Linked DNA regions of Homo sapiens. The protein of the gene in region 1 interacts with the protein of each later gene in a pairwise test. Each region holds a gene or a part of one and is shown on either strand. Other genes may lie near its edges.

The links. Proteins that work in one complex are often made in the same cells at the same time.
Region 2: the proteins of GOLGA6L9 (region 1) and KRT1 interact in binary tests that used the Homo sapiens proteins (3 or more experiments, as listed by UniProt).

Annotation. Positions count from the first base shown.
Region 1 is NC_000015.10:82,432,806-82,438,188, reverse strand, and holds part of GOLGA6L9 (golgin subfamily A member 6-like protein 9), read right to left. Parts: exon of another isoform or gene 5,373-5,383; coding exon 5,292-5,372; intron 4,628-5,291; coding exon 4,540-4,627; intron 4,156-4,539; coding exon 3,587-4,155; intron 3,321-3,586; coding exon 3,260-3,320; intron 2,223-3,259; coding exon 2,120-2,222; intron 1,911-2,119; coding exon 1,778-1,910; 3' UTR 1-1,777.
Region 2 is NC_000012.12:52,674,236-52,677,407, forward strand, and holds the end of KRT1 (keratin, type II cytoskeletal 1), read right to left. Parts: coding exon 3,081-3,172; intron 2,950-3,080; coding exon 2,824-2,949; intron 2,261-2,823; coding exon 2,040-2,260; intron 1,510-2,039; coding exon 1,475-1,509; intron 1,383-1,474; coding exon 958-1,382; 3' UTR 501-957; downstream 1-500. UniProt on the Homo sapiens protein: May regulate the activity of kinases such as PKC and SRC via binding to integrin beta-1 (ITB1) and the receptor of activated protein C kinase 1 (RACK1). In complex with C1QBP is a high affinity receptor for kininogen-1/HMWK.

The sequences.
Region 1 (5,383 bases):
CGATTTGAACTATAAAAATACCTTTGAAATAATTTATCAATGTATTAGGTAAGCTCAGTTTCAGAATGATAAACTGTTAGACCAAATAATGTGGCTAATTAACAGTGGTACGATTTCTAGCCTGAGGGTTTAAAATGGGCTTAAAGTAACTGTCTTTAAACTGAACTCAAAGAATGCAAAAGCGGCAAGTTCAGACAAGGCAAGAACAGGACCTTTAGTCCATTTTAAGCCATAAATATTACACAAAATATGCCTCTAACTGAAACTGAGAGGTATAAAAACATATTTCACTCTTTGTAAAGAACTTTGTGAGGAAATATAACTCTGTGATTGTATAGACACTTTCCTCATGACACTTTGACATTCACGAACAGTAGATTGTGCTGCAGTTTGTAAACGTTTTACGTTGCATAAACTGCTCCTTGATTTTCAAATGTAGTATAATACTGTCTACTAAAACTCCTTTTTGTTTCAACTAAGTACTCTCACATATATTAGTTTATAATAATGTTTGTTATTATTTTTAAAGTGTTCTCCATTCAAGGAAAAGAAGTAAATTCCTATGTCAGATGGTTGAAGACTAGCTATTAGCCAGAGAGGTCTAGATGGTAAAATCCATCTTCTAGCCTCAAATAAGCTCCATGAACACAGAGGAATGCCAGGTGTCACACAGCTTTCCTTCACTCGAATTCATTCTTGACTAGAGCCTGTATATGCCTGTTCCAGGGGCATTTAAACTCTTAAAGGATTTCTTCTGATCTTTACTAAATACATTAAGGAGAACGCCAACCAGTGCCCTTTTGTGTACTGGGACATGTAGTCATGTGATTAAAACAGGGAACATGAACTCTGACTTTAAAATGTATTGTAGATATAAATGCTCTCAGCTAGAAAAGGTTTTCCACATCCACAGTCATGATGGGAGCCTTTCATTCCTCAGAAATAATCCCTTTTCAGGTCATCAAAAAAGAGTACAACTGCCACAGCTCATGAGGCAGTATCTTCATGAGCCTAGAGCACATACAAATCCTAAGGGAACTACCGTAGTACAGCGCTCATTCTTGGCACCGGAACAAATGAAACATATTCTATCCTGCACACACCTGCCAAAGCAGGCCACTTTCCTCTTCTGGGAGATTTAAAAACCTCCCCAAAATGTTATTACTCCCATCCCCAATACACAGAAAAAGGGGGAAAGGCTGTTTCCAGAGGGCAAACCACATATTGAGCTAATGAAGAGCTCACTGTGATTAGGATTCGATCAAACATAACAGCAGAACATAAGGAAATTTTATCTGAATTCCGTAATGAATATACAGGCTGTACTAACATTAAAAAAGCATGGCAGCCTATCCCAAACCAGCAAGAACAGTTGTGTGCATACAGTGGGTCTTTGTGTGTTTGAACTCCCACCACATAAGGGCAAACTCGATATGCATGCTAACGTCCTATAATTATCAAATTAAAGAAATGCTAAAAGATGCCAGAGTGAACATGAGAGAAAGACCCACTCTCATTTAACTTTTTACAAATAAATTTAAATTATAAATTAGAAACAAAAATAAATTTAAACTATAAATTAGAAACACAAATAAATTTAAACTATAAATTAGAAACAAATAAATTTAAACTATAAATTAGAAACACAAATAAATTTAAACTATAAATTAGAAACACAAACATAAGTGGCTCTAACATTCAAATGAAGTAAATGAATTGTGTAGGATATTAACCCCTTAAATGTTTTGTTTTTTTTTTTCAATTTCTTGACCCGCTCTTAGATGATGGTGATGTTTAGCTCCCTGTTCTCGGCAGCCCGAAAAGAATGGCATGCAGCCTCTCCTGCTCCTCCTGCCGCCTCTCCTGTACCAACAGCTTCTCCACTCAAGCCTGGGTGCTCCTGGGGAGTCCTGCATTAGAGGAAGCAGCTGCTGGATCTGCTGTGCAGTGGGGTTGTCATGGGGGAGAACCCTCCCTGTCCTCTCCCGGTGCAGCCTCCATGCTATCAGTGAGGCTCAGCTCACTAAGATCTTCAGAGAGAGGGAGGGGGTGGGAATCTGGGCACAGTGCGAGCCTCCCCTGCTCCTGCCTGCCCACCCCGCCTGAGGGCTCTACTCACCACCCTGCTTGTCCGCACATCCAAGCTCCTTGTGGGACTGGGGCTCCAGCTACTGGTCTGGCTGCTGCTGCAGACTCGGAGCCTCTTGGCTCTTCAGCTCCACCTGCCGGAAGACCCTGGGCATGAGGACATGTGGTGGCTGGCTTCCAGATTCCTGGCCCATTAATAGGGTAGCGAGGGCACTGTGGGGCTCTGTGGCCTGCCCAGGCCCCTGGCCCCTTGCTCCAGGCCTAAGAGACTGTCTCCCTTGCTTAGAACCCCATGCCTCCTTCCCTAGCATCAAATCTCACGTCCTTTTTCCCAGCATGTAAACTGTAGGCCACAGACTGGTGGAAAAGCAGGCGGAGCCAACCACCATCTGCTAAGTGTGCTACATGCCTAATGTTTCCACGTATTACCTCATTTAATCCTCAGCACCTCTGCAAGGAAAAGGCTAACTTCCTTTTGAAGTTAAAGAAACAGAGACTTAGAGATGCAAAGTAGTTGAATTATGACCAGTGGAACCGAGGCCGGAATCCAGTTTGAATCTAAGGAGGCTTTTTTGTTTTTCTGTTTTGTTTTGTTTTGAGAGAGTGTCACTCTGTGTCCCAGGCTGCAGTGCAGTGGTGCAATCTCAGCTCACTGCAACCTTCATCTCCCGGGCTCAAGTGATTCTCGTGTCTCAGCCTCCTGAGTAGCTGGGATTACAGGCATGCACCACCAGGCCTGGCTAATTATTATTATTATTTTTAATTTTAGTAGAGATGAGCTTTCACCATGTTGGCCATGTTGGTCTCAAACTCCTGACCTCAAGTGATTGTCCTGCCTCAGCCTCCCAAAGTGCTGGGATTGCAGGCATGAGCCACCACACCCGACATAAGGAGCCTCTTATACCACTGTCTCTTCCTCTGTGATTGGGGGGCTCCATGCCTCTAGCTGGGATGATGATGTCCAGACCTGGGAGGACCCCAGGGCTACCCACCTCTAAAAGTCAGAGGGCAGGAAGCAAGAAACAGTCATAGGACTGCCCCGGAGGGTGCTGGGGTCACCTGTCCCCAGGCTGCAGCTGCCTGTGGCCTGGCACCTCCCCTCCCCAGAGGCTGGTGCCCGCCTCCCACATCTTCTTGGATGGGTCGGAGGTTACAGTCTCTTTCAGCTCACCCGACTTCTCCAGCTCCTTTACTTGCTGCTCCAACTGCAGTGTGCTCTTGTTCTCGTTGTTCTGGACAGAAAGAAGCAATCAGTGGCCACCCACTAAAACTGGAGACCCCAGAACTTAGTGTCTGCCTCCCATGGCACCGGGAAGGGTGGAGGCAGGTTAGAAAAATATCCCCTCTCTCCCACAGCCATCAGAGCAGGGCTCTGGCTCACAGATGCCTTTAGAAGTACCATTTCATGTGAAGGCTACAATGCCCCATTTTACAGGTGGGGAAACAAAGGCCTTGAGGGCTAGGGAAGAGGGCAGCCTCCCCAGGTGGGGCAACGCACCAGCTCCTCGAAGCCGCTGCGTGGCTCGGCCCGCTGCTCGTACAGGGCTTCCCACCCCAGCTCCAGCATCCTCTCCAGCTCCCGCAGCCTCTCCAGCTCCCGCAGAGTCTCCTGCTGCCACAGCCTCTCATCCTGTTGCCGAAGCCTCTCCTGCTCCAGGAGCTCCTCCACCTCGTCCAGCAGCCTCTCCCTCTCCAGCAGCCTCTCCTGCTCCTCCTGCCGCCTCTCCTGTTCTAACAGCTTCTCCACCTCTTCCAGCAGCCTCTCCTGCCCTGGCAGCTTCTCCTGTTCACACAGCCTCTCCTCCTGTTCACGTAGCCTCTCCTCCTGTTCACACAGCCTCTCCTCCTGTTCACACAGCCTCTCCTCCTGTTCACGTAGCCTCTCCTCCTGTTCACGTAGCCTCTCCTCCTGTCTCCTGTTCAGGAGACTCAACATCTGATTGTTTTCCACCTCAGCCTGGAGCTGTCTTCCCACACTCTCTAGCTCCTTCCTTAGGTGGTTGGTCTCATCTTGTAGCTGCTCCATCTTAGATGGCCCTGCTGGGGGCTGTGGGGCCAGGGGTTCAGCTGAGAAAGCAAGCAGAGAATAAGGGCCTCTGGATTCTCAAAAAAAAAAAAAAAAAATCCTCCCTTTGGTGCACAGCTCCTCCTCTCAGGCTTCCCAAACTTGGCCTCACTGCTAATGACTCCTCACACCCGGATGGTAGACAATCTTCCAAGTCACTTTCAGATAGAGAGCACTGTGGGTGGCTGACAATGGGCACTCCTCCCTCTTTACTGATGGGGACACTGAGGCTCATGGAGATGACAAGACTTGTCCTCCCCTGGCACAGACCTCTTTCCCTCTGCCTCAAAGCCCTTCCATCCACCCACCTCCCTGGGGCATTCTAAGTCACCCCCACAGCCCTCTAATGCCAGTCCAGCTGCCAGGTCATGCCAGCCCCATCTTACCCGTCTGGTTTTTGAGTTTGAACAAGCTCCTCCCAAGCTTCTGTACCAGATGTATCTCATGCTTCTTCTCCTCCTTAGATGTGCGAACCTGCCCAAAGCAAAGGGGGAAAAGGGTACTGGAGGGAGGGGCTGGTGAACGTCCAGAGACAGAGTTTGAGAAAGGCCCACCCCCCTTCTGCCAGTTTGTGATTTAGAAACGTGCATTCATTCAACAAACATTTACTGAGCATGTACAGGCCAGGTACAGTTCTTCATAGCAGAGATATAAAACAGCAAAGGACAGACAGGAGCCCTTCGCCCTGAGCTTTCCATTCTAGGGGCCTTTAAATCTCTGACTTTCAGAGCTAACCGAGACCTTTGATACTCTCTACCTCCTCCAGAAACACGAGCATAAAGAGGAGAGATGGCTTGTCCAGACTCAAAAAGCAAATTAGGGACTGAGGCAGGGCAGGAATATGGACCTCTGACAACCAGTCAGGCTAGTGCTTCCCAGAGAGGTGACAACCCCAGGGCATGTGTGGCAAGGACTAGAGCAGGGGTGTCTGGAGAAGAGAGAGTCAGCAAAGAGGGCAGTGCAGAAGAGCCATGCTGCATGTTCTGTGCTCTGGGGTCCCTCCAGGTGAGACCTGGGTGCCCAGCTCCCCATTTGCCCTTGGCATCAGGGGCCCCTAGCCCCTTTCTTCAGGGCCCCAAGAGGAAACTGGAGTCCAGGATTGACCAGCTGTAATCAGGGGACCCCACTGGACTCTTACCAGTGAATTGATGTTTTCAGTGAGTTGACTGATTATTGCGGAGCTTGAATCCAGGGCTACTGCTAGTTCTTGGTACTGGCTCTGAGGTGCAT
Region 2 (3,172 bases), on another chromosome or scaffold:
GAGCTTTGGGTGGTGGCACAAAAAGAGAAGGGAAATGGAATATCCAACTCTCTATTACCACTCTTAGTTCTTGAACTCCCCAGGCCAAAGTCTGTATTCTGGCTCCAGTAACTGCTGACCCTATATTACTCATGCCCCTCCTTACTGGCTGTTCCACGTGAAGAATTACTTTTTCATGCAATACTTTCCCTTCTTCTCAATGCCACACCTCTTCCTCCCAACCTGCTTGCTCACTGCCCTTTTCAAGAAAGCCTTCTCAAATGAACAAAACCTGTCACCCGGTCTCTCCATTTCTCCATGACATCCCCACCATCTGGGAAAGTGCTTGCTCTCTCTGTGATTCCAGTCTGGTGAAATGTTGCCTGGTTGGCCTCTGCATTTTTCTCATGTTTGTGTGCATGACTTTCCCATATGCCATGTGGCTCTAGTGTCTTCTTTTACCTCACAAAACACCCATCCAGGTTAGACAGTGCCGTAAACAAGGGCGATCGAGACATGGAGAATTTCAAATGCAGTTTATTGCAGCAAAACAAGGAAATGGGGAGTTTAAGACCTCTCCACAAAAGAAAAACAACTTGCTTACACCTTATGTACAAAACCAAAACAGCACAGAGATAAGATGCTAAGGAGCTGTCCACACCCTGGGTCTAACTGGTCCTACTCTGGCTGGCTTAAGGAGGTGCTTTGAAATGTCATGTGGGTGGTGGTCACTGCTGAACTGTTTCTCAGGGAAAGAACAAAGCAGGGTCATAGCCAGGGGACTGAGATTGCCACTGATCTGAAAACTTCATTGGGAAACAGCAGAAAAGAAAGAGCTGGGGGAATAGGATGAGCTAGTGTAACTAACCATAGCTCTTTTCTCCGGTAAGGCTGGGACAAATCGACCTCGGTCTTGCCAAGCATATTTGTTAGTGATGCTGGGGGAGAACTAGAGCTAATGAAACAGAGGGCATCTCTTTATCTGGTTACTCCGGAATAAGTGGTAGAAACAAACTTCACGCTGGAACTGCCACCAGAGGACTTGACACCCCCAGAGCTGGATCCCCGGCCTCCTATGGAGCCTCCAGAGCTCCCGCCGCCAGAGCCCCGGCCGCCAGAGCTGCCGCCGCCGCCGCCTCCAGAGCCACCTCTGTAGCCCCCACTGCTGCTTCCGGAGCCGTAGCTGCCATGGCCGCCGCCGCCACCTCCAGAGCCATAGCTGCCACCTCCGGAGCCGTAGCTGCTACCTCCGGAGCCATAGCTGCCACGGCCGCCGCCGCCGCCACCTCCAGAACCATAGCTACCACCTCCGGAGCCATAGCTGCTACCTCCAGAGCCGTAGCCACCGCCGCCACCTCCTCGGCTGCCACCTCCACTGATGGTGGTGTGGCTTGTGCTCACAGCTGCAAGAGGAAGCTCAGTTATTTTCAACCTCAACTCCGTTTCCAGCCCAACAAAGCCTGCACATGCCCCTGAGAAATCGACTTGTACTTACACACACTCACGTTCGGGGCACATTCTCCAGACATCCTGTAGGAGAAAATAAGAAAATTCCTCAGGACACTCCAGCTTCCCAAACCGCTTCCCCATTCCCCGCTCCACCACCTTGAAGACTTTCCCCATCTGGGTCTTCTCCAATGCACTTAATCTGAAACTTAATCCAATCCCCTCTGGCCTCCCAGACCTGTCATTTTTTCTCAGCAAGAGTACAAACACGGAGAAATTCCCATATAAACGAGACAAGAGCCTTGCAGCCAATGAAGGCCCCCTCTAAAGATGCCGACTTTAGGCCAGCTGCCATCTGAGGCAGCCCAGATAAAGAATAATTTGCTCCACCTCAAAGCTCTTTCTAGATATGTTACAGCCCTAGAAGAAAAAAATAAACAGCTTGGGACTCCAGCTCCCAAAGTAAAACTAGGTCCTTCCTCCTGCTCCGTGTACTTTTCATTTCCCCATACCCAGCACAAGCTGCAATCAGATGGCTGCATCTTCAACAACAATCAGCTTGCAAGGAAGGAAGACCATGAGAAGAGGTTCGACTCCCAGCGTCCCTTCCTCACCTGCTTTCTTCTCCCTCCAGGAGGGTCCTGTAGGTGGCAATCTCCAGATCCAGGGCCAGCTTTGTGTTCATCAGCTCCTGGTAGTCGCGCAGCAGGCGGGCCAGGTCTTCCTTGGCCTGCTGCAGGGCATCCTCCAGGTCATTCAGCTTGTTCTTGGCATCCTTGAGGGCATTCTCGCCACGCTGCTCTGCATCACTGATGGACTGCTGCAAGTTGGAGATCTGAAAAAGAATATGACACCCTCTCATAATATGCATTCCCCACTAGGCCTCCTCATCCCAATTGGTCTCCCCACTCCAGTGAGGCCAATAATGAGTCCAACAGAACCACTTGGCCTTAAGTCATCTCACACCCACCTCCAGATAACACATCACCATGTTGACTTCCTTAAAAGACCTTAGGGATAACTCAACAGCCTCTCTTGGCCCTGAGTCAAGGCTCCTACAACCCTTACAGACTTGACATTCTTCTAAACACCTACTCTAAAACCTCCTGGCTGCCCTTCCTCTCACTCCCCAACTCTTAAGTCCACTTTGGGTCATAGGCTAGATCACTCACATTGACCATCCCATCTTTCTCTACTAGGCCATTCTCACAGATTTCCCTAAAGAGAACCCAGCATGATGGCTGCATTCTGGAAACTAGCATAGTCACAAAAGGAACCAGGGATAATAATGTAGCCTTGGGATGAATTGCAAGATTCAAAACTAGGAAAGCACTCGCCCTTTACCTGAGGGTTACCCCCATTCCATACAGCTGAGTGGTAGAAGGAGAAAGCACATACCTGCTTCTTGACATTGTCGATTTCAGATCTAAGTCTCTGGATCACACGATTCAGCTCAGAAATTTCTATCTTTGAATTTCTCACACTATCCCCATGTCTGCCAGCAGTGATCTGCAGCTCTTCATACTAAAGATGGTAGATAGCGTTTGTTAAATGTAGGCAGAACTCAGCATGGCACAGGCACACATACATGAGATAACACAGGATAGCAAGACAAGCCATTTCAGGGAAACTGGCTAGGCTTTCAGCCCACTCACCTTGCTCTGGTACAAGGACTCGGCCTCAGCTTTGCTCTTCTGGGCTATATCCTCGTACTGGGCCTTGACCTCAGCAATGATGCTGTCCAGGT